Homo sapiens: one gene and its partners. The protein of the gene in region 6 purifies or fractionates together with the protein of the main gene of each other region. This does not show direct contact. Each region holds a gene or a part of one and is shown on either strand. Other genes may lie near its edges.

Region 1 (4,444 bases), on a different chromosome or scaffold from region 6:
CTATTTGTGCTTTCTTCAGCCCTTTTCTGGTCTATAAAGTCAACCTTCTCTGCTTAGCCCAGGGGAATGATTCATTCTATTTTATAGAATGAGGCTGCCAAATTCTAGAATCATAAATAAAAGCCAGTTAGAACTTTGAACTAAATTTGTTGTACTTTGCCTTTTGATAACAGCTAGAGATCATATTCAGCTACTATTATCATTGAAATTTGTGAGTTAGCTATTTTCTGCACAGCCCTTCTAATTATCACAATCCTTTTCTTCCAGCTGTCTCCCTATCCCCTTAATACCCTACATCAACCCTAACCAAAAACAAAAACCCTAAAACAAATATCACTCTTCCTCCAATGCCAACAGAAACAAATGAAGAAATATACAAATACAACACAAGAAAGGAAAAGGCTGAGGAAGCAGCACTATTGTGAACATTCTCTACATTAGTGTCATGAGCACTTATGTTCAATTCCTGTGAAAGTATATAAAATAACTGTGCAGTGAGACTATTATAACTGCTTAAGACAACAACTTTAAACTTTCTTCTCATTGCCAATTCTAAGAGAATTATCTTCTAAAGATTAAGAATATTAAAACAGAAACTTATATTAGGACCATTTATGTATGAATAAACTTCAATGTTTGAAGAGTTTAAACTCACCTGAAGTATTTTGTAGAAGCTTACTTCCATACCAGGAACCAATGGTTTAAGTTTGTTAATCAAATCAAGAGTTTTCAAAATTACATCAGCAGCAAGTTTGCTTTAAAGATAAATCACATTTAAATTAGATAACTGAAAAATTTCTTAGAGCTTGTTTCTGTCCAAAATTCTAAAGAAAATGAAAAAAACCAACACTTGTGTTTTTTAAATTCAAGATGATAAAGTCCTGTTTCTATTGAGAAGTAAAAATCTCAATCAACATTCTTATAACTCAAGATCCAAAGAGAACAAACTGGCATTAATAGCCTTAGTTTAGACAGTGTTTCTTTTACTACCAACCTGCTTCAACTTTCTGTTTCAAGTAAGTAGTAGTTTCGAAACACAGTTCATTTAATTCTTAGCTTTGTCACTAGAATATCAACAACAGACGGTAACCTTAGGCAATATAGAATATCTAATACGTAATGAATGAATTACACTAGGTCATGTTCTGAGTTTTGTACCTGAAAGTAGTATACAAATATAAAAACAGATAATTCTTACTCTAAAGGTCCACAATTACTGACAATTGTGACATCTGTGGAAACAGAAACAAATCATAGTGTCTACCACTCAGCAGGTCCTCAGTAAAGATTAGATGGACTTAATTCATGAGGAGGGAAGGGGTATAAAGTAATATCTTATTACCATCAGTGAAAATCCACCTTTAACCATAATTCCTGACCTGCCAAGGAAGGAGAGTTGTCTGTTATTAAAAAGCCTTTAGCAGTGACTGATTTCCTTGTAATAAAACTACTCTTCTGTTTTTTCATGCTTTTCATTTAAAAAAGTAAAATTGATTACTGAGGCAATGTCAAAAAGGAGCTCCAGAAATGTTCAGAACCCTTAGATAATTATAGTAAGTTAAAACAAGACAAAACAAACCTAAACAATAAAAAACAACAAATGTTAATACCTTTCTTCAAAAAGCACACAATCTACAAATTGAATGAATTTACAAAAAATTCATTATGAAAATATGTTTGTTAATCTGTTATATCTTAAGTTATAACCAAAGGATGGTCCTCCAAAAGGATGAGAATCACCACATCTTTCGATTTTTTACTGCCTTGCCATTTTGTCATTAGAGTTTATATACTCACCATAATTCAGAATCTGCAACCTTTGTTCCAAATCCCAGGTCAATCTTGCCATATGTAAATTGTTGTTCTATAAGAGTGGTACACTTGACAGTTGTCAAGATTTTTGCAATATGCATTTTTAGTGTATCATCTCCACAGAGAGGTTAAGTTTTGTTAAGATATACAACAAAAAAATTCTCACTTTATGTGTAAAAGATAACATTCAGGATGATTTCATACAAATTATATCATCACTGTCATCCAGTATAATTATTGTTAAATTAGCTCAATGACAAACAAGGAAACTGAAACTCACACAATTTAAATGACTAGCAAGTGGTAAGAGATGGACTGGCACCAAAGGTTTCTGACTCAATGGTTAAAACAGCGAGGATATCTTTCCATTGGATGTCTGTTTTTTGTTAGCAAGAATCTCAATGGTTCAATAAATATTTATTGAATAAGGGTAAGTTGTTTTGTCATATTTGTATATTATAAATTAATGTAAATAGCTATTATTTTAAAAGTTGTGGTCCAATTCAATGAGAAGGCCCCACTTTATTAATTATAAATATCTCCAAGGTCAAGCAATCATGTATCCCTACTGCAGTGGTTCTCAACTTTAGCTGCATGTTAGAATCAACCAGGTAGTTTAAACAATCACAAACAAAAAAGCCAACATGCAAACACACACCACCTAATGATTTCAGGGTTTCACATCACTCCAATTAAATTAGAAACTCTTGAAGTAAGGTTCTGGCATCGATTTTCTTTTTTTTTTTACATGTTCTCCAGGTGATTTTAGGTAGGAAATCAGGGTTGAAAGTCACTGCTTTAAAGGAAGAAAATTAAGGAGCAGTACCTTAGAAGAGGATATTAAACAGGGGTGGAGTTTGCTCTAGGACAGAGTAGAACATATTCTTGTTGCTCTGAGATACAAGGAAACCTGACTAGATACATTTAAGAGATCTGGTTGAGATACAGTGGCTCTTTGCTCATAGTAAAAAAGTATTAATGAAATATTTTAAAATTGGGACTTCCAGCAACTCAGAATTAGTTGGTCTATGAAAAAGTAAACACAAGGAAGACCTAGAAAATCAGTATATAGAAGTTAAGCAGTGAAACTAAAAGGTTTCTTTTTAAATGAATGAATTTGTGTTGATATACTTGTCTTTTCTTATAACCATTATTAAAGCAATTATGAAGGCTTTATTTTTAAAACATAAGGTAAAACAACTGAGCTAAAATCATGACAACTCTATCAGCATTTCTTTATCCACGAATACACATCACCAAAAAATGGCACTACTGATCGTCCGTCCAGGGGAAATAATTAGCATCAAGCAGAAAACAGTAACATGGAGTAACAGAATAGTCATTTTAGAATTTACCACCAAATGTCAAATTGTGATACAAGTGTCAAAATCAAGCTTAAACAGCATTTTAAAAAATGTACTTTAACTTAAAAGTTTCACACAGAAAAATAAGGAAAAAAAATCATGGATCTTTTTCACTCATTGAGAATTTTTTCTACAGTTCAAATTTTAGTTCAGTAATTCTAGATAAATATGAGCATAAAGTGACAAATTACAAATAAAGACAAAATGCAGTGAATGCAATACTAGAAAAAAAAGAATGGTTAGTTATACAGTTTTCACGTTAATGACAGTAAAGGATATTTAACAAAACTTCAATGGCCTTGGCAATCCTTTCACATTTTTTTCTTGTTAAAGCCTCATCTAGATTTTGTTCTGTGAACTGAAGTTGATCAAGGATTGTAGGCAGCAGAAGGGTCACAAAACGATCAGCCGAGGAACAGTTAGCAGCATCTATGACATCCTGGAGAATTATCCATCACAAATGATTAAAAGCAAAGATGGAATATACAATACAGAAAAAGTCATCACTGAATTGTAACACTCTCTTTAAATTTTTTATATTTCCTTCAATATGCCATTGACCTAAGTCTCCTGTGAATATTTAAATTTTTATTTAAAATTTATACTTCTAACCAGTTTTGAGGGCTATGGCTTTTTTCTCAAATTAGACAGTAAGGTTTTACAAATAAGACTTTTTTAAACAGACTTTGTGATTTAAAAATTATTCTAAACTAAAAGTATCTACTGAAAACAAATATCCTGAATCTGCTAAAAGTAATAACAATAATTAAATAATAGACATTGGTCTTAATAGTTTATGACCACAAATAATTTCCCTCAAGACCCTCAAAGGGCTTTTTAAATGTTAAAACTGATTGTTAAATAATCAAGACCAAGATAAAATAGAAAATTTTGTGAATAATTCTTAATGAACATATTTAATCACTTCATACACATATTTGTTTGTGTGTAAGACCCAGTTATGTGAAGGGAAATACTTTCAGGAGATATTGGGTTAGACAGAATGGATTTATAAACAGGGAGAATAGTAGAGAATATTAAATTGCCCAGATAGTAAGATCTACCAGAATGTGGAGTTTTGTCTGTATCTTAAGTGCCTAGCACATTATCTGGCATGCTCTACTCCATTTCACTGACTGAATCCAATATGCCTCTATTGTCCATTCAATGGCCTACTAAACTTGGTAGATGGCATCTATTGCAATGGAGAGACAATGTAACTATCCCCAGTAGTCAGGCAACAAATTATATAAATCTTTTTAATATCT
Region 2 (4,444 bases), about 160 Mb from region 6:
TCGGGCCCCGCACACCACAGAGGCGGGATCTTAAGCTCGAGTTACAGCTCCGCGACCACGACTGGAATACGGCCACTTACACTTTGGACCACGGCTGCCTCCTCGTCGGTGCAGGCCTGGAACAGGGTCCGGAGGACGACCTCCAGGTGCTGCGTGGCGTGGTCCTCGGCATGCAGCAGCAGCACTGGGAGCAGCTGTGCCGACTTCACTCGGGTCCCCACCACCCAGTCGGTGATGTCGTGGCACAGGGCAGGGAGGATCTTGGAGAGGTTCCTGAAGACGAGCTCCCGGCAGCCCAGCACAGGGCGGCGCTCTGGAACGAAAAAGGGAAAGAAGAATGAGAAATTCACAAGCAAAACCTCAACAACTCAAGTTACCGCACATCACATTTAAGGGACACCTGTGAGTTTCAACCTCACCATTTCAAAACAAGTCTTGGGGTGGACGCAAAGCTGACAAATGCCCCGTCGTTCAGAACATTCACAGAGGCGGTGCACGGCTGCAGTCCTAGCCCTGTGGAGGCCAAGGCAGGTGGATCACTAGAGCCCAGGAAGTCAAGACCAGCCTGGGCAACATGGCAAAGACCCCATCTCTATAAAAAACAGGAAGATTAGCCAGGTGCCGTGGTGCATGCCTGTGGTCCCAGCTACGCAGGAGTCTGAGGTGGGAGGATTGCGCCACAGCACTCCAGCCTGGGTGACAGAGCGAGACCCTGTCTCAAAAAACAAACATTTAGAGCCACACAGAGATGCAAACAACACACTTGCCACACGTGCTGACGTGTATGATCAGAGAGACACGCCTGCGAAGCCGTCCCCCTATGATCAGAGAGACACACGCCTGCGAAGCCATCGCCATATGATGAGAGACACGCCTGCGAAGCCGTCCCCCTATGATCAGAGAGACACACGCCTGCGAAGCCATCGCCATATGATGAGAGAGACACGCCTGCGAAGCCGTCCCCATATGATCAGAGAGACACACGCCTGCGAAGCCATCGCCATATGATGAGAGAGAGACGCCTGCGAAGCCGTCGCCATATGATCAGAGAGACACGCCTGCGAAGCCATCCCCATATGATGAGAGAGACACGCCTGCGAAGCCATCGCCATATGATGAGAGAGACACGCCTGCGAAGCCGTCGCCATATGATCAGAGAGACACGCCTGCGAAGCCGTCCCCATATGAGAGAGACACGCCTGCGAAGCCGTCCCCATATGATCAGAGAGACAAGCCTGCGAAGCCATCGCCATATGATGACAGAGATACGCCTGTGAAGCCGTCCCCATATGATGAGAGACACGTCTGTGAAGCCGTCCCCATATGATCAGAGAGACATGCCTTCGAAGCCATCGCCATATGAGAGACACGGCTGCGAAGCCATCGGCATGGTGGGGGTGACAGCTGCGTCCTTCGCCCGGCTTCCTCTGCTCCTCTGCACTGCAGCCCCCAAGGCACCCCGGCACCCCTGGATCTGTCCCGTGACTGAGCTGCACTTTCTAGAGCCTGACACAAGTGGAAGCCTCTCGTTCACTCTCCTCCCTTCTCCGCTTCTTTCACTCTGCATCGTTTTCTGAGGCCCGCCTGTGCCCGCTCCTTTCTGAACCTGGGAAGTGGCCTGTTCTGGGGAGATGCCAGTTTAGTGCCCGCTCCTCTGTGGAGAAGCATTCAAATGGTGTCCAGGGCAAGTCTGTGTGGCCTGGGCTTTCACTGTGCCGGGACAAATACCAGCTGTGGAAGGGCTGGGCCACAGGGAAGGTGCACGTTTAACTGTTTTAGAAACTGTCCAACCATTTTCCAAAGTGTTTGAGCCAGTCCGCGCTCCTTCCCACTCTCAGCGGCACGCGGTACGCTCAGTCTTGAATTGAAAGCAGTCCGAGAGGCACAGTGGCATTTCCGTGTGCTTTTCCTTTGCATTCCCCGATGACTAACGACGCCGAGCGTCTTCTTCACAGGCTTGTTTGCCGCCTATCTTCCCTGGTAAAGGGTCTTTCCAAATTGTTTTCTGCCCATTTAAAAAAATGGATTGTTTTCCTGCTGAGTTTCAAGAGCTCTTCCTATACTCTGGAGATAAATCCTTACATACATCATCTCCAAACATCTCAGTCTTTGGTTTGTCTTTTCGTTTTTTCAACAGGCCTTTGAAAAAGCAGAAGTGTTCATTTTGATGAAGTCCACACATTGCTTTACCCTGTTACAGAGCGGTCTTTTGAGGACGCACCCAGGGAAGCGTGGCCCGGCCCACGGTCACGAAGCCTTCGTCCTAGCTCTGCGGTCTTTTGAGGATGCACCCAGGGAAGCGTGGCCTGGCCCGCGGTCACGAAGGCTTCGTCGTCACTCTGCAGTCTTTTGAGGATGCACCCAGGGAAGCGTGGCCCGGCCCGCGGTGACAAAGGCTTCGTCATCACTCTGTGGTCTTTTGAGGACGTATCCCGCGAAGTGTGGCCCGGCCCGTGGTCACGAAGGCTTCGTCGTCACTCTGCAGTCTTTTGAGGATGCACCCAGGGAAGCGTGGCCCGGCCCGCGGTGACAAAGGCTTCGTCATCACTCTGCGGTCTTTTGAGGACGTATCCCACGAAGTGTGGCCCGGCCCACTGTCACAAAGGCTTCGCCCTAGCTCTGCGGTTCTGGGCTTTACCTTCAGATCCCTGACGCATCTGGGGTTAATTTTTTGACTCCAAGTTCACTTTCTGGTGTATGAGTGATCCTATCATTTACAGTATCCTTATTAAAAGATGCCATTAAATGGTCTTTGAGCCTTCATCAAGTCAGTGGTCCGCGTGCGGGCGCCTGTTTCTGGACGCTCTCGTTCTGCTCATCGGTCTGAAAGCCAACACCACGTGGCCCCATGACTGTGGTTTTGTGAGTCTTGCACCCAGGACCTGCTGCCATTCAGCTTCACTCCTCCCCAGTGTTTCGGCAGCTGTGGGTCCTTTGCACGCCCACGAGAATTTCACAATCAGTTTGTCGATTTCTACAGAAAAGCCTTCAGGGACTTTGATGAAAAGATTCTGATCTTCAAAATTCAGGCCGGGCACGGTGGCTCATGCCTGTAATCCCAGCACTTTGCGAGGCCAAGGCAGGCGGGTCACCTGAGGTCAGGAGTTCAAGACCACCCTGACTAACATGGTGAAACCCCGTCTCTACTAAAAATAGAAAAAATAAGCCGGTCGTGCTGGCGAGCGCCTGTAATCCCAGCTACTCAGAGGCTGAGGCAGCAGAATCACTTGAACCCAGGAGGTGGGGGTTGCAGTGAGCCAAGATTACACCACTGCACTCCAGCCTGGGCGACAGAGTGAGACTCCATCTCAAAAAAAAAAAAAAAAAAAAATTCAGAACAACTGTAAAGATAGAAATGAAACCATGATATGTCAGGATTTAAAGGGTCTTTTTCTATTTTTAGAGAAAGGGTCTCACTCTGTCACCCAGGCTGGAGTGCAGTGGTACGATCACAGCTCACTGCAGCACTGACCTTCTGGGCTTAAGTAACCCTCCTGCCTCGGCCTCTCAAAGTGCTAAGATTACAGGTGTGAGCCACTGCATCCAGGCTAAAGGGTATGTTTTAATAAGAACAGCTTGTACCAGGACACCCCATTTTTAACCTTTTTCTGGTTATTTTTCTGTTTTTATCCTGTATTATGGAATTAGTTCCAAATAATTAAAATTCTGCTGGCTGTTTAAATGATCCTGTCATCATTTTGTAAAAAACAAAAAAGCCAGGGTGCAAACACACCTCTCTTCGTTTTTTTTTGAAATGCAGTCTCGCTCTGTCATCCAGGCTGGAGTGCAATGGTGCGATCTCAGCTCACTGCAACCTTCACCTCCTGAGTTCAGGCAATTCTCCATTCTCATGTCTCAGCCTCCTGAGTAGCTGGTACTACAGGTGCATGCCACCACACCTGGCTAAGTTTTGTATTTTTAGTAGAGATGGGGTTTCACCATGTTGGCCAGCCTGGTCTTGAACTCTTGACCTCAGTATTACAGGCATGCGCCACCACGCCCAGCTGCACCTTTCTTCCTGATGACGATCCGCTCTGGAAAGTTTGCAAAATGAGAGATGCGTGACCAGGAACAGCCGGGGAGGGGTCTGCTGACAGCTGAACAGAGCTTTGTGGGCACCTGGGCTTCTGGGTGTTTCCAAAGAAATACTGGCCGGTGCTGGGCAGGGGTACGCAAGGCCTGGACACAGGCTGGGACTGGTTTAAGGCCTGTTAGGAACTGGGCCCCACAGCAGGAGGTGAGCAGATGGTGAAGGAGTGTGACCGCCTGAGCTCCACCTCCTGTCAGATCAGTGGCGGCATGAGATTCTCAGGGGAGGGCAAACCCTCCTGTGAACTGTGCGTGTGAGGGACCTGGGTTACGTGCTCCTTATGAGAATTGAATGCCTCATGATCTGAGGTAGAACAATTTCAACCTGAAACCACCCTGCTCCCTGCCCCACCCA
Region 3 (4,444 bases), on a different chromosome or scaffold from region 6:
CAGTGTTGACCTATCCTCTGAGCCATTTTGTTGGGTACCTGTTAGCCTTTACCCTGGGAATTGAAGTATTAGTAAGTAACTTACCAGATTACAACATTTGCAAATTTCTTTTATATATTTGTAACTAGTATTAAATGACCTTATTTTTCATTCCTTCTTTGGAATGCATTACTAGGTTCTCAGTTTTTTCTACCGCTATATGCTTACCGCTGGACTTACTGCCTTTGCAGCTTGGCCATTTCTCACTCGGCTGTGGACTCGAGCAAAGGTATGAGTACTCATTTTGACATAGGACAGATTAGTAACTACTTTGTTTTGACACATGTGTAACTCAAGGAACTGTTTATTTTTAAAGAAAAGGGTAGAATGTGTTCTTACATAAAAGAGCCTAGTCATATTGATAGGAGGACTGACATTACCTGTAAGGTTTCAGTAATTCACTTAGACTTTCACATCAAAATGGGCCAGTTATGTGGTAATTGAAATGCTATATAAGTTGTACTGATATGTCCATCTCTGAAGCATTTCCTGGATTTGTTTAGCTTCAAATATCTTGATAATGGACCAGGCAAGGAGTCGTCCAGAGCAGCACAGCCCAGTGGCTTAGGGGTCTGCACTCTGTGAGTCACAGGAAACACCTCCCTCGTTACCCTGAGCCACTCAGTTTTTTTTTTTTCTGGATAAGTATGTATTTATTATAGATTATTAAAAATATAGTCAGTCTTGATTTTCTTCCTTCAGCTACATAGGGAATTACAATGTGCTTCTACAAAGAATGCACTTATATTTCCACTTTGATACTTTTTGATAGAAGTAGCAGGAAGATATCTTCTTTCTACTCTGAGAATTTATTAAAAAATCTTCAATGAATGGGATTATCGATCTTTTAATTTGTGAGGGATCTTAATCTAATTACAAAAGTAGTTTTACTTATTTTCCTTCTGGGCTCAGTTGTTTGGTGATTATTGTAGGCCACCTTTTTTATAGATGTCTTCATCAATATATGGTCTAACCTAAATTGAATGAAGCACTTTATGCAGGTTTAAATACTGGTTATTTTATTTACTTGTCATGGACCTGGTACTACTTATATTTTAACTTCTCTGAGCTCTGTTTCATCATCTGATGTATTGGGAATGATAATACCTGCCTCTTGAGGTTATTGTGAGAATTAAATGAGAAAGTGCTCATATTATACCTAATACTATACCTGCTATGCAACAGGTCCTTCACAAATAGTAACTATTACTTTTTAAAGTAGTTAGCTGTTGATTCTGCTAGAAAGTATTTGAAAAATAAAATAATAAACAGCTGTAAGGCTTTGCATTTTCCTTTTACCTTCACAGTCATATAGTCTGTGAAACACTAATGATAGTTTTCTATACCATATTTGTCTAAAGATAACTTTTTTCTTGATTTTAGATGACCTCACTGAGTTGGACTTTCTTCTCTTTGCTCCTGGCAGTGTTCCCACTGATGCCGGTTGTAGGTCGAAAGCCAGACATCTCTCTAGTGTATGAATAATATTGTATTTTATTCTATTTTCAATACACTTTTTTTTCCTCAATTAACACTGTAAAATTTGAACCTAATCTTGGTCAAGAATATAAAATCATGTGAACTAACGGGAATTTAAAATACCAATATCAAACCATTAGTCATGATTTTGGCCTAGGTTCTAAGAGTCATTAAACCTCCTAGTAGGTGCTTTCGGGCTTTCATAATGAAATTGTGCCACTGATAACTTAAAATCCCGCCCATTTTTTTTTGTTTAAGTCTAGAAGGTTTTCTTTCTTTTATGCTTGGAGGAATCAGTAAAAGTTTTAGTTTCATGTGAAAAAACATTCTGTTGCCAAAACAAAAATGTCTCAAAGCTACTGTGTTAGCCCTCTTTGCTTTAATCATGTCCACACTAAAATGTCATGTAAAAATTAAATTTTCTGCTATTCTAAATTGAATGTAAAGATCTCCATGGGAGGAAACTCTATTCACCTTGCCAGCTTTCCCATGTTTAACCACTCAAATTGTTTGAAAATTCTTCTGCATATCTTACCTAAATTCCTTACTGTGCTGCTATATTTATTTCTCTTCAATAGACCTAAATAAATTTATAAAATAACTGGTTACCTTTGCTTTTAACTGCACTTTATTGTCAAGTAAATTATGGGCTGTTTGAGTGTGCATATGATCATTATTTCATTTAACATTTCCTCTCTTATTGTCTAATCATGGGAATTAGAAATTAAATCATCTTTGTTACTTTCTTCAGAATGCTATAAGCATTTTTTAAAACATTCTAACCAAGTCTGTAATGGATAATGGTATATATTTTTAAATCAAGGAAGATTAACTAAATACTATTTTGTAAAAATATGTGCTGATTTATGAGATTCTATACATTTTCTCCTATTTGTATGAGAATACCAATATGCAATAGACCAGGAAATATCCCAGGAAGTCACTTTATTAGCAGAGCTCAAAATAATTGTATTGAATTCTAACACCATACTATCTAAGCCATACTTTATTAGAGTGTTACTAGGTAAAAACATTTTGCAACTGTCATAACCTATAAATAGTATATGACAAAATGAATTCCAATATTTTCATTTATTTCTTGCTTCAGATAGCTCTGTAAGCTCTTGTATTGTTTCTATAAAGCCCCTTTCCTTCCCTTTGTCAGTCTCTGCCTATCAGTCCTGCTCAAGCAGTATTGCCATAGTTGAGCAGAATTTATCATATGCTAAAAGGGAAGGAAATTGTATAAATTTGCCACTTGCGTATTCTACTAAAGATGAATGTGGGAAGCAAATAAACTTGTTAAAATATGAGAAATCTAATTTATATTTTAGAAAATTATATTGTTTCCCTCTAAATTTAAATTGCTCAGTGACTTTAAGTTTATCCTACTAGCTATATTTGCAACTTATTTATTTTGATTCCTGGTTCATGGGGAAATTTCTACTCTCCTTTTCATCTGTCACAGCATCTCCCTTCTTCAGAAAATCACAAAGATGTGATTTTGTGAAACATTTAAGGATACAATTAAAGGAAAAAGCAAACGTGTACAACATGGTTGTGATGTCTGTTACTCCAGTGTTCTAAAGTAAAAACATATTTGCCAATAAGTTTAGATACCAAATTATTTTAAAAATTAAGAAAGAGAAAAAAAGCAAAGAATCTTGATCATATGTGACTATTTTTTCCTAAATTTTAATGATAATCCATGTTGAATATATGATTACCTTTCTCCTTAGGATTCTCAAAGAGTGTATTTGAAGCATCACAACCAACCATCAAGCATTTTTCTGGGGATTCCTGCTTTGCATTCTTCTTAGGTGTCCAGCTCTGCTTTTTGCTCTTTCTTTTTTCTCTTCAACCAATTCCTTTTCTCTTAGTTCTATTTGGGTTCTGGATTTCATCCTCAGCATAATTCTGGCTGTGCTATGTTATTCAGATGTTAAGGAGGTGAGAAAGAGCTCAACAATAGGGCACCATTTCCTTGGTATCAGTCACCTTTGACTTTAGGAAACATACTATACCTGGTGTGTTTCCTTACTGTTATTTCATTACTGTACAAATGCCTCACCTGCATGCCACCCATGTGACCACTGCCTACCCCTTCCCTCAGCCAGGAGCAGCTGAGGAAAATACCAAGGTCTGTCACAGAAGGGAGCTGTTTTTCCTGCTAGAAATAATGTGGGTTATATATGTAGATACTTTTTGCATGAGTAAGTTTCATAATCACAAAATACATGTTGTAGATACTGATAATATACTTGTTTAGCTATCTTTTATATTGTAAATTTTTGTAAATTTGCCCAATTCAGGCTAAATATTATAGTATTTGATATGCCTAAAATTTTTTTAAATTAAATTATAGAAGCAAGGTAGAGATACTTAGAAAATTGTGGGGAGAGGTTACAAATAACCCCATCCAGCAGTATCTTTATCCTAAGATTAAAAGTTTTCTTAAAATCTTAAAACTTAAAAGTTTTCTTAAAAATCTGAAAATGTACCCATTTTGCTACTTCCTCTTGATTAAGCCAAATGACTGAGAGGTTCTGTATTAGAGTAAGATGTCTCATATTTCCATCTGATATGTGTTCGTAAATATCTGAAGAAAATTTAAAATTAATTGTATTTCAAAACAGGATGGGTGCAGGCTTGCTGGTTCTTCTGTTATCCCTGTGTGTTGTAACATCTCTCATGAAAAGAAAAGATAGCTTTATAAAGGAAGAGCTATTGGTACATCTGTTACAGGTCAGTTACAGATTTTCAATACTATGTTATACTAATGATATACTGAAATGTGTCTTATGGTTATATTTAATTATGTTCATAAAATGCCATTACCTTTATGCTACTTAGTATCTGCCAGCTGAGAAGAAAGCTTTCATTTAAGATGCTACATGGAAATGTGTTCTTTAAGAGGTATGAAATA
Region 4 (4,444 bases), on a different chromosome or scaffold from region 6:
TGTCCTTGCTGGGGCTTCCCAGCTGGGCCACGATGTGAGGCCATTCCTTGAGAGCAGTGGCACATCGTGTGCCACGGTGGTGTGCTTTCTCTCTTCCATGGAATATGGGTGATTACACTGTTGCTGGGCATTTAGAGAGCAACGGGGCCATGAGGCAGAACCTGGGGAGGGTGTGTGGCGTCACCTTTCCCACCACCCAGTGTGATGCAGGTTGCGTCACACTGTGCACATGGGCATCTTGTGCTGGTTCTCTGCATTGGCCCTAAAATTCACAGGGGAGTATTTGGGGCCTTTTTAAAAATAAAAAGTGAAACAAGGTCTTCCTCCTAGTAAAGTTGGAAAGCATCTTACCAACCATTAGTTCAGGTGGCCTCACTCTACTGCAGGATAGTAGAGACACTCTCAAAAAAGTAACTGGGCGTGTCCAGGTCACACGGTGTGCTGGCTGGATGGTACCAGGGCAGGATGAGATCACAGGGCCTCAGAACCTCCACCTGCACTTCATCTCCCAAACCCACTTGGTGATTCTCTGGGTATCTGTCGGTCACTGTGATTTCTCCCATCACTTCCGTGGAGTCAAAGGCTGAGTAAATGTGTGCAGAACTGACACTGCAGGGCGCAGTGGGTTTGGGGAGAATGGCCACCTGGCTTTGTAATCTCTGCCTCCGTTCTCTGCCACATGGGAGCCAATCTGCAGTGCTGACCTAGTCAGGGCCCCACCTGACAGGCTGGAGGGTGACCTGAACACCCAGGGGCGTGGTAACTGAGATGGGCAGCTTCAGCAGTGTCTAGGACTTTGAAGCAACTTTTAAAAATGCTGAAAAATAAGAAACACGCATATCTTCCTTTGTTCCAACAGTAGGTTTAGTCAGCCCTAGGAGGCCTGTGCAGCTGACGTTCGCTCGCCTCCCGTGGGGGTCAGCCTCTCGGGTGCTCTTTAGACTCTGGCTTCCCAACATGCGTTGGTGGATGGGTCCCCTGATCTTTCTCCGAAGGACTTGCTGTGTTACAGTATTTCTTTCACTTTATATCTCAGTTTTGCATGGGTGATAAGAGAAAAGTGCATGGGGTGAACCTGCGTGACATTTGTACCTGGCATCCGATAGTGCATGTTGGCTACCTAACCCAGCCGTCATAAATGACCTGACTCACAGCACAGCAGGAAGTCATAAATGTTTTCTTTCCCTTTGACATTTGACAGTGATTTCACACACTTGCGTTTCATTGCTGTTGAAACAGCTGTCCATCCCATTTGTTAGTGTGTTTTAATTTGCTCGAGATTATGCAGGCTTTGACAAAATCCCAGCGCTTTCTAGCCATTAGCGGTACCAGCTTCATGCTGCGCTGACGGTTGCTGCACACACAGTCCCCACGTCAGATCCTGAGCTTGCAGGGGAGAGCTCCGTCGGGCTGGGAAGCGCCAGCCCTGGTTTGCAACAGCACACATGCGCTGTCCAGAGCCTGGGGCCTCCTCCTGCTGCTCTGGAGATTTTCGGATAACTGTAAACGTGATCTTACTATTCAGTCAACCATGTGGCCCTCTAGGTGTGGCACCCTGGCTGTCACCTAAGCCAACCCTTGTTCTGTCAGGGTACTCTGGGCGTCACTGGGCAGGCTGGGAGGTCCAGGCCCTTGGCACCTCAGCCATGTGTGACCTGCAGGCTGGGGTCAAGTCTTGGCATTGCACCATCAGGTCTGCGAAGCCTAGGGGAACCCCTTCCCGCTGGGTTTAATATAGCCATTTGTAAGGTGAGGGGTTGGACCAGAGCAGCGGAGATGCCTGGCAAAGTGCAGCGGTGCCTCAGGAGGGAGGCTGCTGCTGGCATGTCGTGGGCAGACATGTCGTGCGTCATAGCCTGCAGCACCCAGGATGACCCACGGCAAAGAGTGGCCTGGCCTCAGATGCCAGTAGTGCTGAGGTGCAGAAACGTTGGATAGATGACCTCTAAGTGCCTTTTCAGATGTCATTCTGTGATTCCAACTTGTAAATGCCTTTGACCGAAAAGAGCAGCTCTGTGTCTTGTGGCAGTGCCACCTTGGAAGACTGTAGTTGCCTGCCGAGGCACTGGGGGAAATCACGGTAGCAGAGTGTTAGGGCTGCTGCCCTATAGGATCTGCCCCAGAGGGCCTAACGTCAAGTCATGCATCTCCGGGACTGATCCTTGGATTGTTGCATGTGTCCAGACTCACAGGGTAGCGCTCAGGAGCAAGCACTGAGAGCCCCCTAGTCTGCCCTGGGAAGGCACCGGGGCTGACAAGAGCTCTTGCCTTCCACAGCGTCTGTTCCTCACACACCCCGCCCAAGGACGTGCCTGGCAGCGGCCTGGTGCTCCCCGCCGCAGCCACCTCACCCTTGGGTTTCTGTGGCCCTGCAGTTCCTCCGTGTCACAAAGCAGTACCTGCCCCACGTGGCGCGCCTCTGTCTGATCAGCACCTTCCTGGAGGACGGCATCCGTATGTGGTTCCAGTGGAGCGAGCAGCGCGACTACATCGACACCACCTGGAACTGCGGCTACCTGCTGGCCTCGTCCTTCGTCTTCCTCAACTTGCTGGGACAGCTGAGTGAGTGGCTCTGCGGGTGGTCAGGATTCACTGGGCGTCTTGTTCCATGATCGTTAGCAGTTGGGAGGCTGTGTGTGAACTCGGGGGTCTCCTGGACTGCTGTCCCCCCTCCATTCCCCTCTTCTCCAGCTCAGCTGTGCCAGGCCAGGAGTCCGGTTCTGCAAGCCTTGGTGGGGACGCTTAGTCTCTAGCCCTGAGCTCACTGCTTTAGAGCTTGCTAAGGAAATAGGACATGGTCCCTGTCAGGGACCCAAAGCAGGAGATGCTGGAGTCTGGCTGGCAGTCCACAGTAGAGCAGTTAATTGCCTACCTCAGGTGGGTGGCTGACTTGGGAGCTGATTGTGGGAAACAGCCCATTCTTTATGACGGCAAGGGCTCCACTTTCTGGTGTTTGTGATAAGTCTAGTCAGCTTACCATGTGTGGTCCTTGCCTATCATTAATTCTTCCAGAAGTTGTCTTTTGCTTGGGTAGGTGGTTTGGCTGCCTCTGGACCTAAGGGCCAGGTGAGGTAGCAGTGTATCAAGACAGTGCTCCCCGCCGGCACCCACCCTCAGGCCCCCTAACCCTTGTCCTTCTCTCCAGCTGGCTGCGTCCTGGTGTTGAGCAGGAACTTCGTGCAGTACGCCTGCTTCGGGCTCTTTGGAATCATAGCTCTGCAGGTACACGGGCCGCGTGGTCGGGGCTCCCTTCTCTTTGCTCTGGTGGAGCAGAGCTTCTGAAAAGACATCCTTGAGGGTTCAGTGTCACTCCCCCTTCAGCCCCCTGCATGTCTCTGACTGCCTGGAGCTCCTTTCTCTTCTGGGGAAGTCGTGAGCCCAAGCAGGGCTGTAGAGGCAGGTCATTCGGTACTGGGCCATCTTTTGTCCCATTTCTATGATTACCGTGACAAGGGAAGTCTCGAGCTTGGCTGCAGCCAGGATGCTGTCTTGTTATCACGTTGCTTCATAAAGAAGAATACTTGGTTATTCAGAATGAAATGCTGGGAACAGAATATCTGAATCCACATCAGTGGTCTCAGAATCACTTTGTTCTCTGGAACATCATAGCACATTTCTTGAGAAATACAGAACCACATTTTTGAGCTTAGATCTGTCCTCGGTCTCCTACAATGGTTTTGTGTGTTTTAGACTCCAGCTGACATTGGAGAGACGGCCTAATGTATTATGAAGTCTGTGGAAATGCCTTTGGAAAGGCTGAGACTCAAGTATCTCTCTCTTCTTTCCCCTCAGACGATTGCCTACAGCATTTTATGGGACTTGAAGTTTTTGATGAGGTATGTGCATTCTGGTTGGTTTTAGTATACGCTCCTTCTACAGGTTGAGCATTGCAAATCCAAAGTCTGAAATGCTCCAAAATGGGAAAAATCTTGGGCACCAACATGACGCTCAAAGGAAGTGCTCATTGGAGCATTTCAGGTTTTGGATTTTCAGATTTGGGATGCTCAGCCAATAAGTATATAATGCAAATATACCAAAATCTGAAACACTTTGGGTCCTAAGCATTTCAGGTTAGGGATACTCAATCTGTATTTCTAAACTCAGTTAACTATTGGTTTGAGTAGACTTCTCTGGGTCTAAACCAAGCTTGTCCAGCCTGTGGTCCACGGGGTGAACATGGCCCAACACAAACTCAAAAACTTTCTTAAAACATTGAGAGTTTTTTTTGTGATTTTTAAGTTTTATTTTTTAGCTCATCACCTATCATTAGCATTAGTGTATTTTATGTGTGGCCAAGACAGTTCTTCCAGGGTAGCCCAGGGAAGCCAAAAGATTGGACCCCCCTGTCTAAATTGTGCCTCTTAGAAACAGGTTCTGAAGAGGATGTTGCAGAGCCCCTAGAATAGTAGAGACTGAAGCCGTCTCTTCTGACCCTTATTTCACG
Region 5 (4,444 bases), on a different chromosome or scaffold from region 6:
TATGATTCCAGTTACTGTAATGACAGCACATCAGTCATTGCCTGAGGCTGAAGGTGAGAAAGATTAGCTGGCATGGACACTATAGAACTTTTAAGAGTGAGGGATCTTAATTTTGGTGGTAATTATTCATGTGTATAAATTTGTCAAAACTCATCAAAATGTACTATTAAATGGGTGCATATTACTGTATGCTAACTACCTCAATAAAGTTGATTTAGAAAAGAACTCTGAACGTGGACTCCAAAGTTTCACATGGCCAGGGGCCTACTTGCCTTTCATCATCAGCTACTGTGCTTCCCAGTCTTTCTAGTTCTCTGGGCATTTATACTTGGTGTTTCCCACTTACACCTAATTAATGTCTACTCCCCTTAGACTCAGGTCAAGGTGAGAGGCGAATCCGGCTGGGCTTCTGGGTCGGGTGGGACTTGGAGAACTTTTCTGTCCAGCTAAAGGAGCGTAAACGCACCAATCAGCACTCTGTCTAGCTAAAGGTTTGTAAACACACCAATCAGCACTCTGTAAAAACGCACCAGTCAGTGCTCTGTGTCTAGCTAATGGTTTGTAAACACACCAAACAGCACTCTGTAAAAACAGGCCAATCAGCACTCTGTAAAATGGACCAATCAGCGCTCTGTAAAATGGACCAATCAGTGCTCTGTAAAATGGACCAATCAGCAGGGCGCAGGCTGGGCCAAATAAGGGAATAAAAGCTGGCCACCTAAGCCAGCAGCAGCAACCCGCTCGGGTCCTCTTCCACTCTGTGGAAGCTTTGTTCTTTTGCTCTTCACAGTAAATCTTGCTGTTGCTCACTCTTTGGGTCCGCACTACCTTTATGAGCTGTAACACTCACCGCGAAGGTCTGCAGCTTCACTCCTGAAGCCAGCAAGATCACGAACCCACCGGGAGGATCAAACAACTCCAGACACGCCACCTTTAAGAGCTGTAACACTCACTGCAAAGGTCTGCGGCTTCACTCTTGAAGTCAGTGAGACCATTAACCCACCAGAAGGAAGAAACTCCAGACACATCTGTACATCTGAAGGAACAAACTCTGGACACACCATCTTTAAGAACTGTAACACTCACCGCAAGGGTCCGCGGCTTCATTCTTGAAGTCAGCAAGACCAAGAACCCACTGAAAGGAACCAATTCCGGACACAAAAGGACTTTCTCTAGTTTACTTTCCCAGCCTCTAGTTTACTTTCCCAGACTCTAGTTTCCATCCTCTTGTTAAGTGCTCTCCTTGCTCCCAGTAAATGGACAATGAATGAAATGAAATGCCATTTGGCCCTGAGTGGACAGTAAACAGGAACAAAGCAGACTTTCATACATCCCCACTGCCCACACATAAAGTTCTGCTATATTTGAGAGAAGAAAGTTGCCAAGAAAAAATAGTTTGGGAACAGGGCATCTCATGTACTTTGGTGTTGCCCCCAGGAGTCTGGTCTAATCCTGTCTGGGTACAGGACAAGTTCTGGTTTCATTCAATAAGTTCAACACTCTCAGAATGAAAGAAAAAGTTCTAGGTGTCTAAATCACTTAGAACTGAAATCAATGCATTCTCTCTTTATTTCTTTAAAGTAGTAATGGCCTGGACCCAGATTTTCAAAGGTTACTTTGAATTGCATTAGGTAATCACCTAATTCATTCTTTCTACCAATGTTGTATAGTGTAGACCAACATCTCCAGATTACCATCAACCACCCCAAACCAACCCACCTTTTGGAGGTGTAGAAAGAAGCTAGTCTGGCCTTACAGCAGCATATTCTGGCTTAAGGTAAGGAGTTATAGTCTCAGGTCTTGCAATAATTACTTACATGAATTTTAACAATTACTTTAATGTCTCTCTCTCTCTCTCTCTCTCTCTCTCTCTCTCTCTCTCTCTCCAGGCAGACAGACAGTCAAAAGTACTAGAACTGGGAAAAACCTAACATTTTCTCAGATCTCTAGGAGGTATAATTTACATTATAATTTATCATCATTAGAAGAATGACAACTTTCTATACAGCTCCAGCTCCTTTATTCACGATTATGCAACTATGAATAATTCTTTGGCTCAAAATGAAGAATTATTGGATAGTCATAACTAAGCTATTTTTTTAAAAAAGAAGGATGGGGAGGAAGGAAGACAGGAAAAAAGTCTCATAATAAAATATTAAAAGATGCTCAGGAGACTGAAGTTTGAATATTGCTCACATAACCTTCATTAGAATATGCTATAAAAGCAGTTCACACAGTAATAAAAACTGAGTCAAATAACAGCCATAATAATTTTATGAAAGATTTTTTTAAAACCACAATAATTTCCAAGTACATAGTATATAAAGCCGAGATGCGCCATGGCAGTTTTTTTAATATGAAAATGGGTAAGAGGCTTCTATATTTGTTTCCTGTACTGGTGCCTGCTTTTATCACACAGCAGTCCACATATTATAGTATATGAAGCAGCAAGCATTTTAAAACTTGGGAGAATGAAAGTACTAACAAAAACAGCATATAAAAGATGTTCATTATTCTAATAGAGCATTTTTATCCTGATTTTTTAAAAACTCACACAATTAGCATTCAAGTTATTTTTCATTATTATCTGCTTCCTTTGCTATAATACAAAAGTTACATATTTTATCTACTAATACTGCCTAATTTGAGGATATCATAGAAACCATAATTTTGTTCATTTAATATTAAAATAATTTTATAACCTCACTGATGAGTCAAACAAGATGTTCATATAATATTGTCTATCTAATATTACAGGCAGAAATAACTATAGAAATTAGGTATTTCTTAGAAACATTTTCATTAAAATTTTATAAGCATATGATATTTCTGTGCACTGCCTTTTTGGTTTTAAGTAATTGTTTATAAAAGGCAGAAACGTTGTTTTATATGCAGTCAATATTTCTGTTAAGAAGGTTCATACATTACAGGTTTCTAGGGAAAAAGTATGTAATTATTAAACTTGCTGGGTTTTTTTAGCTAATATTACCTAGATGTGACTTTTTCAAACACTCTATTGGTTGACTTCAAATATCATTTGATTTCTTTGAGGAATTGTATTGTTTTGCAACTTCAGGAATTATCTTGGCATTAAAAAAGAAGTGTGGAAAGAAAAATGTTTGTTACTATATATGAAGAGAACAAAAAGGTCCTACCTGTTTCAATCTCATGAAGAAAGTCTCTGTGAAAGTCTTTCTGCTGAAATACCAAAATCGCTCATTTGCAGGGTACACACGGACTACTGTCTCCAGGAGAAAGCGAACAGGCTCCACCACCTCTGTGACTACCATATCCACTGCCACAGTCATGTATACTTGCTTATCTGTAGTAGAAATTTTCTGGGTTTTATGCGAGCTTTATTATTCCTTGTCTACTTTAAACAAAGTTTCCTCACTTATGAAAGAATTAAAGTTCTTTACAATTGTAATACCTTCTATGTTTATTTTTAACTGTTCTATTCACATTTTGATTAAATAAGTATGCAAGTACTCCAAGCATGTTTCTTAGGAACTAATAATCCTAAGTGTTTGTTGTTTTGAGACAGAGTCTCACCCAGGCTGGAGTACAATGGAGCGATCTTGGCTCACTGCAACCTCCGCCTCCAGGGCTCAAGCAATTCTCCTGCCTCAGCCTCCCAAGTAGCTGGGATTACAGGTGCCCGCCACAACACCCAGCTGATTTTTAAAATATTTTTACTACAGACGGGGTTTCACCATGTTGGCCAGGCTGGTCTCAAACTCCTGACCTCTGGTGATCCACCCCCATCAGCCTCCCAAAGTGCTGGGATTACAAGCGTGAGCCACCACACCTGGCCTCATTGAGGTTTTTGAATCTATGGCCTGGTCATTCCATACCATTTTGTAATTTCCTCATTCCTTTTTAAATATTTTTTAAAATTTATTTTCTTTACAATTTTTAGTTCTCTGTTAAAGGAAAGTCCAAATAACCAAGGCCACCACTAGAAGAAACCCTCAATAGTGTTTTTAAATATTATATAACATTCAGATTCATCAACTACTTCTCAAATTCAATAACAATTTTATTACATTCTTACTAAATACAGTCTTACTAAATACACCTGCCAATTCAAGAGAAACTAAAATTTGTTAGACATTATACTTGACCTGGAGGACCTTAGAGAAAGGAGTAAGGAGTAATAACACAAGACAGAATATAACATTCAACTGGATCTTAGTGCAGTGGAAAGATCCAAGACTTTTCATCTCTCAGGTTCTAAACTTCTTCCATAAAAATCAAACTTTATTTGATCACACATTCTCTGAGTAATGTGTAATTTCAAGGACATAATTTAGAAATTTTAAAAATCAGGGCAACATTTTTGTGTGGCATATGAGATAATGTTAAATTTAAAATGTATACTTTGAATCAGAATATTATAATATACTATTATATAGTTTAATAGAATAAATTATAAATAAATTTT
Region 6 (4,444 bases):
AGCACGTGATGTTGTCCCAGACGCCACTGCAGGCTGGAAGGAGAGAAGCAGAGTGAGGCAGGTGCAAGGTGACAGAAGTGTCACAAATAGAAACCCCATTAATGAGATAACTGCCTCGCAAACTCCTTTCCTGTGAAACACACTTGCACCAACACAATTATTGAGACTATAGTTAGCTTGTGGGTTCATCTCAATTAGCTTTGGAGGAATAACCATATGGTGGTAGAAAGCATTTGAGTACTTCAATGTATACCATGTACCTTCTGAATTTTAAGAGAATCATTACTTACTTCTTGTGATCAGCATTTCCTAGTGTGATGAAATGGGCACCACTGGGTATTAGTGTAAGGCCCCGTCGGGGAGGGAGACGCCCAGGGAAAGTGTGCTTGTGCTTCTGTGGAATCTGACTTCAATGATTATTTGCAAATAAAAGTATTTGATAATATTTGTTTGATTTTTCACTGTCAAGATGCCTTATTAGCAACAAAATCTTAGGTTACCTTCATGGAGTTGTCAAATAATTTGCATAATGCATAGCTTAAACATTTTTAGACCTACTATTTGGTCTTAATAACCACCTGGTGAAGGTTAGATATAAAAATGTTGCATTAATTATCTTCCAGATGAAAAGCACTAAGGTTCAAATCTTTTAATGAATTCTCAATATCACACAACAGTGATGGAATGCATGTTAAACCCAGGACTTTCCTACTTGTCCATGGTATTTATACTATATTTGAGACCTCTAAAATTTTACCTTTTACTTAAACCTCAGTATCAGAAAAGCAATGTGCTAGCCTTGGTCGGTAAAACAAACAAACAAACAAACAAACAAACAAACAATCAGTTTTCCTTTCAGCACATGCCACCCAGACCTGTGCAATAATTGCAGGAATACATCCATAGAGAACACACAGCTTTGGTGTGAACAAAGGAGTGTTTTACTTTCAAGAATACAGAAATGTCTCTGAAAAGCTGGCCATAAGCTAAGTTTTGCAGATGAAAATAGTTTCTAAATACTTTCAATAAAAGTGAAAATATATTTATTATAAAATAAAATTACATACCAATACTTGAATAAGTACATAAATTCATATTACATTAATGTTAACATATTTAAAGAAAATGTTGGTTTTCTTTTAAAATGTTCAAAACAAGTGATCAAATGTAAATGCATCACTAGAAACTCCAGGCGTGAGCCCCCGTGTAAGGCTGCTTAGAGTCTAAGTAGTAGAGTTATTTAAATGCTAAGTTCGTAAACCAAGCACTTCTAACTCTGGTGTGTAGGGCAGGTGGTGGAGAGGTGTCAGGATGGGGTTCCTAGCCAAGAGTGAACAAGATGGAGAGGAAAGTGAAGATGTCTAGGCCTCCAAGTGAAGACTCTGCATGTGATCAGCAAAGTTCTGTCCATCTCCTATAAAACAGCAAGCTCTGGCAGTTTCGTGTCTGGTTATTTTGAAGGTTCAGCTTTTTATCACAAAATGACAAATTTCTACCTTGATAATAGTAATGGCTGGGTGTGGTGGCTCACACCTGTAATCCCAGCGCTTTGGGAGGATGAGGTTGGTGGATCATTTGAGGTCAGGAGTGTGAGAACAGCCTGGCCAACATGGTGAAACCCCGTCTCTACTAAAAATACAAAAATTAGCCGGGTGTGGTGGTACACACCTGTAATCCCAGCTACTCAGGAGGCTAAGGGAGGAGAATTGCTTGAACCCAGAAGGTGGAGGTTGCAGTGAGCCGAGATCGCATCACTGCATTCCAGCCTGGGTGACAGAGCAAGATTCCGTCTCAAAAAAAAAAAGCAATAATTATATAATATTGTTATTTTAAAATAATGGGCTGGGTGTAGTGACTCATGTTTGTAATCTCAACACTTTGGCAGGCTGAGGCGGGATAATCCCTTGAGCCCAAGACTTCAAGACCAGCGTGGGCAACATAGCGAGACCCCATCTCTACAGAAAATATTTAAAAATTCGCTGGAGGTAACAGAGCATGCCTATAGTCCCAGCTACTAGGGAGGCTGAGGTGGGAGGATCACTTGAGCCTGGGAGGTCGAGGTTGCAGTTAGTAAAGATCATGGCACCGCACTCCAGCCCGGGCGACAGAGCGAGACCTCGTCTCAATAAATAAACAATAAATAAGATAATGTATAGTAAGATAACTAATACATAATACAAATTATAATGCAATAATTATATACTGTATAATACTAATTGCTGCTTTAAATTTCAACAGAGATACTAAATTCATACCACATCAAACAGTCTTTGCATTACAGTAGGATTTGATTTAAACATCTAGAGCTAATCATCTGATCCCTTCAATGGCCAGGGAAAGTCTTCTCTTCATTTGTTCCTTTATTGGACCGCACGTGAGGGAGCAGAGCTAGACGCTGTCAGGATGTGAGGAAGCGGACTCGAGGGCGTCAGGGCGCCGAGGCTGAGGTAGCAGCCGGAAGTGCAGCCGAAGGCGCAGCCGGAAGCGCTGCCACAGTGCCGGTCGCACACGTGGCACTGGCTGCAACCTCCTGGCAACAGCTGCCAGGCGGGAACACAGGAGTTTCTCTCTCAGCTTCTCAACCTCACGCAAAGGACAGCCAAAAATTTGAAAGGGCAGCACCAAGAGATGTCACTACAGCCTTGCAGACAGAAGCAACTGTGTTAAATAGGCAGGCAGAGGAGGGGGAGAAGCGAGAGACAGGCCATCGGTACCCCCGGCACCGGCAAGGGTGGAGGACGCTGCAGGGAACCGACGGGACCCGGCCGAGAGCCCCGACTGTGAGGAGGCGGCTCACGGCGCCTACCTGGGACCGACCCTGACTGTGAGGAGGAGACTCACGGCGCCTACCTGGGACCGACCCTGACTGTGAGAAGGAGGCTCATGGCGCCTGCCTGGGACGGGACCCGGCTGAGAGCCCCGACTGTGAAGAGGAGGCTCACGGCGCCTACCTGGGACCGACCCTGACTGTGAGGAGGAGACTCACGGGACCTACTTGGGACCGGATCCTGACCGTGAGGAGGAGGCTCATGGCGCCTTCCTGGGGCCAGATCCCCAACCGAGGACCCCGACTGTGTGAGCAGGAGGCTCACAATGCCTGCCTGGGGCCAGACCCCAGCTCAAGGATCCCGACTTGGCAAGGAGGGGGAATCCAGAAGGAGTGGCTCTAGGAGTGAGAGAAGAGAGACAGACCCTCTCACATTGTTTTAGATTGTTTTATACTCAGAAAAGGAAACAGAAGCGAAACTAAAGGCAGGTAGCCCAGCGCCTAGGAACCAGACCCGACACCAGGCCTGGACCTGCCTGACCTAAGCCTGGTAGTTAAAATTTGACCCCTGACCTAGCAACTGATGTTATCTATAGATTGCAGACATTGTATAGAAAGACACTGTGAAACTTCCCGGTCTGTTCTGTTTCACTCTGACCACCCGTGCATGCAGCCCCTGTCACATACCCCCTGGCTTGCTCAATCAATCATGACCCTTTCATGTGAAACCCTTAGCGTTGTGAGCCCTTAAAAGGGACAAAAATTGTGCACCTGACAAGCTCGGATTTTAAGACGCTAGTCTGCCAATGCTTCCAGCTGATTAAAGCCACTCCCTTCACCATCTCGGTGTCTGAGGGGTTTTGTCTGCAGCTCGTCCTGCTACAAGAGAAAAAATGGAACCCTGAGACCACCTCAGTGCAGTGTCTTGAGAGTGTTCTGGCCTGAGGTTTGATGCCTAATTATTGAGAGGTAGGTGAAAAACCCAGCAACAGAAAAACGAGGAAAAGCATAAAGTTATGAAGAAAGGAAATGCTGGATATTATGTGGCTCAACTGTGATGGCAATGATGTACACCAGCAATGTGAAGTGAGTCTATCAGGAGGCTGGCAGGATGATAAATTATACTTGGGTGGTGGGAATGGCACAGGAGAGATAGATCTTTATTCTTGTTAGAAATCTAATGGACACTGGGATGTAAATTGGGAGGAAGAAAGAAAAGAAACAGGAGCATAAGTATGCTGTTTAGAAATAAAATAAATACCAGAGAAGAGATGAAAGAGATGCTGCCATAGGGCTGAGAACTGGGGATGACGAGGGGCCGGAGACTATTATCTTCATACAGCCTTGTAGTATCATTTGCCTTTTACAATTTTATAAATGCACTCTGTTGAAAACTAGCATTTAAAGTGTATCATTATATTAAGATACCCATTTTTAAATGTTTACATTTTTAAGGAACATTGTGCAGGCCAAAGCAAAATAGTGCATGAATAGGTCATCAGTTCAGTGTTGGACATAAGTGATTCAAATTTGGCACAGTGAACCCTTTGGGAGAGGCAGCGAATTTGGGAGAGGCAGCAAGTCCTTCTGTAGGAGTGTGCGCCGAGGCACAGGACGGCATGGGAGGAGAAGGGGAGGCAGGCAGGGCCACCCCCGAGAGAAGCACAGCCACTTGGA
Region 7 (4,444 bases), on a different chromosome or scaffold from region 6:
GCTTCCCTTTAACACTTAGCGTTTATTGGGAAGTTGGGGGCAGGGGTTTGCACACCCACACATAGCTTTGTTTGGTCTCATCATTGATTATTTCTTTGGAAATCTTCAAAGGAAACCTTTATCTCTTAAAACAGCCTAGTCCAATTTCAGAAATACAAGACCTGAAAAGCTGTCAAAATTCAGTTTCCACTGTTCCACACTGTATAAAACCACTATGGGGATGTGTGTGGTGGTTCACACCTGTAATCCCAGCACTCTGGGAGGCCAAGGTGGGCGGATCACCTGAGGTCAGGAGTTCAAGACCAGCCTGAACAACATGGAGAAACCCCATCTCTACTAAAAATACAAGATTAGCCAGGCGTGGTGGCACACGCCTGTAATCCCAGCTACTTGGGAGGCTGAGGCAGGAGAATCACTTGAACCCAGGAAGCAGAGGTTGTGTTGAGCCGAGACTGCGCCATTGCACTCCAGCCTGGGCAATAAGAGCAAAACTCTGTTTCAAAAAAATAAATAAAAATAAAAACCACTATGGGTTAACTTTCAGCAAGTGCAAACTAAAAAGTAAAGCACTTCTTATTAGTCTGAAAAAAATACAGTTGAATACAATTTCAAAAGTATAGTTTTGAATATAAATGTACTTTGTTTTTTAAACTAAGCTTTCCATTTCCCCAGCCTACAAAAGAGAGCAATTTAAAATCTACATCCACCTGAGGCCTCTTCTCTGTTATAGCTTTCATCCGTTCTTGTACAACAGAGTGGCTTTGAAACTGCATTTTGAAGCTGTCTTCCATTTAAGTTGTTAACTAAAAAGAAAATGACACTGGATAAAGACGTCGGTGCGGCCTTTCCATCCTGGTTCCCAAACAAACAGTGAGGCTGCAACATCAGGGTAGCTGATAAGGAACCAATTTTTAAACATGAAATTCAATAAATTAAAAACATTGAAGAAGCCCTTGCTTTGCTCCATTCACATTTCCTGGATCTGTCTTACTATACACGTTTTTAACTTTCAGATGTCAGACTTTGGTAGCATGGTACAAATACATACTGCAAATTGAGAACTGTATATATAATCCAATGATATTTTTGATAAAACCTTATGTGTATGCATTGAAAAATGTTTTTAAAAATGCCCACTAGATTATTAACTGTGGTTACCCTTTGAGGAGGAGGGTGTGGAGAGAGGAGTTAGGAGTGCAAATTTCACTTTGTGTATCTGCTACCTGAATTTATCAACAAGCATGTGCTACTATAATATTTAATCAGTAAAATTAAACAAATATGTAATGTAAAAGTGCATGATCTAGGCTGGGCATAGTGGCTCACGCCTATAATCCCAGCACTTTGGGAAGCCAAGGCAGGCAGATCACCTGAGGTCAGGAGTTCAAGACCAGCCTGGCCAACATGGCGAAACCCCATCTGTACTAAAAATACAACAATTAGCCGGGCCTCTAATCCCAACTACTTGAGAGGCTGAGGCAGGAGAATCACTTGAACCCAGAAGGCGGAGGTTGCAGTGAGCTGAGATCATGCCACTGCACTCCAGCCTGGGCAATAAGAGCGAAACTCTGTCTCCAAAAAAAAAAAAATAGTGCCAATCGATTACATTTTACTGCTGAATATTTACATTCCACGTACCTGAACGTAAAAATTTAAGAAGAGGATGACTAACGTTAGCATATAAGATGACTGGAAGATGAGACAACCGAAGGGGAAGCCACACGGTTTCACGACGGCGCTCATGGTGTGCGTGATGGTGAGCACGAACTGCACCTGGGGACGGCAGAGAGGGCATCTCTGTGAGCGAGCCAGGCTGTGCCACACAGACACTGCGGCCAAGCTTGATCAATTCAGAAATCAACTCCTAGGACTCTTGGAATTATGTAGGAACAAAACAAAGCTGCTGAAGCAGCCCCCTCATCCAGAAATCTTATTTGAAATTAGTATGTGAAATTGCCCATGATTTCCTCATGGAAAAGTCGCAGTTAAAATTATTTAGACAAAAAGGATTTAACTTACACATTAATTTGAAAAGTAATCATCTACATTTCAAAGCAAGGAACTTTCCATTATAAGCTAATAGCATGCACAAAGGGCATTTCAACACAAAAAGTTTAATTCTTAAAAGGCCAATTTTGGAAAAAAAATGGGCAGCCTCATCACACATAAAAAGCCCTCTGACTTCTAAGATTTCTATTTCCTTTCCCCATCCATAAGCCACATGGAGAAAAGCTAAAAGAAGGGACAACATACCAGCTGAGCCTGTGTGAGATATTTCTTCCACCAAAGATACTTGTGCATAGATGGAAACACAGAAAGTCCATAGTAGGAGTACATAAGAATGTGGATAAAACTGTTCAGTGTTGGTCCAAAGAAACCTATAAAAGTACAGTATAAAAATCACTATTCTTCCAGGAAGGACTGTTCATTCTTCTTTGTCAAGTGAGATTCTCTCTCTGCATGGTAATTGAAAATGAGTAGCACATATGACATGATCATATAACAAAATCCACACTAATAAATTCCCCAATTACTGTGCCAGTTCTAGGATTCACCAAAAACTCCATGATAGAAGGAGTAGCCTGGGATGGTTTTTCAGAATGCCCCCCCCCCGCCACACAGGGGAACACCTTATCTACGAGGTTTTACTGTCTCTTTAACCGTCACTACTATCAGCTACTGAGGGAGGAAAAGAAATACTAGCTTAAAGCTGTTGGCAGAATTCCTCTGAAATAGAATTGTCTTTGCTTTTTAGCTAAACCTTTGATAAGACATATTGACAAAGAGCCTTTTGTACATGGCTGAACAGGGTGCTAGAGAGACAAAATATATTGCTTTCATAATTAAGTAAATAAATTCTGCCTGAAAGACACTTAGGGACCGGGAGGTGCTGGAGAAAGAATAAAGGAGACAGAGAAGGCTGGAGTGGCGGAGAAACTGGCCAGCGAGACCTTCCCAGTGATTGGCCATTGCAGAGACTTTTAGGATGAGGGATGTCTAAAATCCAGGCCCCTGCCATCAACCTCATGAAACGTCTCTGTAACTGCCTCCACCATAGGTGAATAAGGCTTCAGGAAACCATGGAGAAAGGGTCATGTACCATGCTGGGTCAGCTAAGCATTGAAAGGATTTAGCTGCAAGAGGTGAGATGCCACAGATGCATCACTTGTTGGAAATAAGGAAACTCAGTGTTGTGAGGATTTCATCAGTACATGAAAGTGCTTAGAACAATGCTTGGCACAAAGTGAATGCTCTTCAGCTGTCAGCCTGGGATCCAGATGGCTGTTCTGCGAGCTATCCTGTGGTGGGAGGGATTGTGGCATTAGAGGGCCATTTATTGGCTATGTCCCCTTGGAGACATTGATTTGACGTAAATTTTTATTTTCTTACCTGGAAAATAGGTATAATAATAATAACTAGCTCTTAAGTTTGGGATGAAATTAACTGAGATAATATATGAATTTAAAAGCACCGCACATATGCTGGCTAATAAATCAATTTAAATTCCCTAGCCTGGTTCTTTAATCCTAGATTAGTGATCTGGATAGCTAAATGCAAATTAATAAATAAGAAACAAAAGGTACAATAGCATGCATAGAGTAAATTCTCAACCAATACTGGCTGAAATAAACTGTTACGGCGCTTGAATTTATATGAAAACACAAACAGAGTTTCAGACTACCAAGCAGCATAGTATTAGTGGTATTTCTTTACCTACATGACTTTTCATTTCCATCAATTAATGAACCATGAGTAGTTGTTGCTTATGTTTGACTCCTGTGGAAATACAGCACCTTCCACAGTCACCATTTCACTGTGATACAGATTAAGGCATTTCAAAAAATTGAAAGTCTGCTCTGGTAGGTCAAAGTATCATTTTTCTAATATTCTTAAGCAGAAATTGTCACAGTATTTACAGGACTATGTCTGTACACAGTGATGATTTGGGTTTTAGATGCTTAGTGATTTGTAATGAAACTTGACAATCATAAAAATACTTAACCTTGGTAATTCTCCTCTAATATTGATTATAGTTGTCCTTCCTTAATAACTAAACTCAAGAAATGGATGTCTACCCGTCTAGAAGGACAGAGATCAATTCTTTCTTTCTTCCCCCTGCACTCACAGCAATTTCCTCCCTCACTCTAGTGTTCATTTGTACCTTCACAGTCACTGATACTCCAAATATCTCTGGGCACTTTTTTCCCTAATATCATCTCTACAAGATCCTAAATCCTGGAACAAAGTCATTTTGACTGAAGTTTTACATGTTCTGATTTTTCATATTGTATTTCTAAATTCTTGAGAACAAGACAGTATCAAATAGAGAGTACTGTTCCCTATAGCTCAGTGCATCTCAAACTGTAGGTCATAACTGACCCATTAGTGAATGGTGAAGTCAATGCAGTGAGAATTGTCATCAACTCTTTGTAAAACAGGATTA

Evidence for each region.
Region 1: the proteins of VIPR2 (region 6) and CIP2A purify together in Homo sapiens (co-immunoprecipitation; 3 studies listed by BioGRID and IntAct, with this or other methods). This does not show direct contact.
Region 2: the proteins of VIPR2 (region 6) and DNAAF5 purify together in Homo sapiens (co-immunoprecipitation; 3 studies listed by BioGRID and IntAct, with this or other methods). This does not show direct contact.
Region 3: the proteins of VIPR2 (region 6) and PIGN purify together in Homo sapiens (affinity purification with mass spectrometry; 2 studies listed by BioGRID and IntAct, with this or other methods). This does not show direct contact.
Region 4: the proteins of VIPR2 (region 6) and SURF4 purify together in Homo sapiens (affinity purification with mass spectrometry; 2 studies listed by BioGRID and IntAct, with this or other methods). This does not show direct contact.
Region 5: the proteins of VIPR2 (region 6) and RABGAP1L purify together in Homo sapiens (affinity purification with mass spectrometry; 2 studies listed by BioGRID and IntAct, with this or other methods). This does not show direct contact.
Region 7: the proteins of VIPR2 (region 6) and ELOVL2 purify together in Homo sapiens (affinity purification with mass spectrometry; 2 studies listed by BioGRID and IntAct, with this or other methods). This does not show direct contact.

What each region holds. Positions count from the first base shown.
Region 1 is NC_000003.12:108,564,700-108,569,143, forward strand, and holds part of CIP2A (protein CIP2A), read right to left. Parts: intron 3,616-4,444; coding exon 3,456-3,615; intron 1,940-3,455; coding exon 1,798-1,939; intron 756-1,797; coding exon 656-755; intron 1-655.
Region 2 is NC_000007.14:750,458-754,901, reverse strand, and holds part of DNAAF5 (dynein axonemal assembly factor 5), read right to left. Parts: intron 314-4,444; coding exon 81-313; intron 1-80. UniProt on the Homo sapiens protein: Cytoplasmic protein involved in the delivery of the dynein machinery to the motile cilium.
Region 3 is NC_000018.10:62,102,613-62,107,056, reverse strand, and holds part of PIGN (GPI ethanolamine phosphate transferase 1), read left to right. Parts: coding exon 1-71; intron 72-175; coding exon 176-268; intron 269-1,422; coding exon 1,423-1,514; intron 1,515-4,154; coding exon 4,155-4,263; intron 4,264-4,444.
Region 4 is NC_000009.12:133,365,377-133,369,820, reverse strand, and holds part of SURF4 (surfeit locus protein 4), read left to right. Parts: intron 1-2,277; coding exon of another isoform or gene 2,278-2,375; coding exon 2,376-2,562; intron 2,563-3,145; coding exon 3,146-3,222; intron 3,223-3,792; coding exon 3,793-3,836; intron 3,837-4,444. UniProt on the Homo sapiens protein: Endoplasmic reticulum cargo receptor that mediates the export of lipoproteins by recruiting cargos into COPII vesicles to facilitate their secretion.
Region 5 is NC_000001.11:174,277,491-174,281,934, reverse strand, and holds part of RABGAP1L (rab GTPase-activating protein 1-like), read right to left. Parts: intron 3,323-4,444; coding exon 3,156-3,322; intron 1-3,155. UniProt on the Homo sapiens protein: GTP-hydrolysis activating protein (GAP) for small GTPase RAB22A, converting active RAB22A-GTP to the inactive form RAB22A-GDP. Plays a role in endocytosis and intracellular protein transport.
Region 6 is NC_000007.14:159,109,887-159,114,330, forward strand, and holds part of VIPR2 (vasoactive intestinal polypeptide receptor 2 isoform 1 precursor), read right to left. Parts: intron 34-4,444; coding exon 1-33. UniProt on the Homo sapiens protein: G protein-coupled receptor activated by the neuropeptides vasoactive intestinal peptide (VIP) and pituitary adenylate cyclase-activating polypeptide (ADCYAP1/PACAP).
Region 7 is NC_000006.12:10,988,065-10,992,508, forward strand, and holds part of ELOVL2 (very long chain fatty acid elongase 2), read right to left. Parts: intron 2,379-4,444; coding exon 2,254-2,378; intron 1,774-2,253; coding exon 1,639-1,773; intron 1-1,638.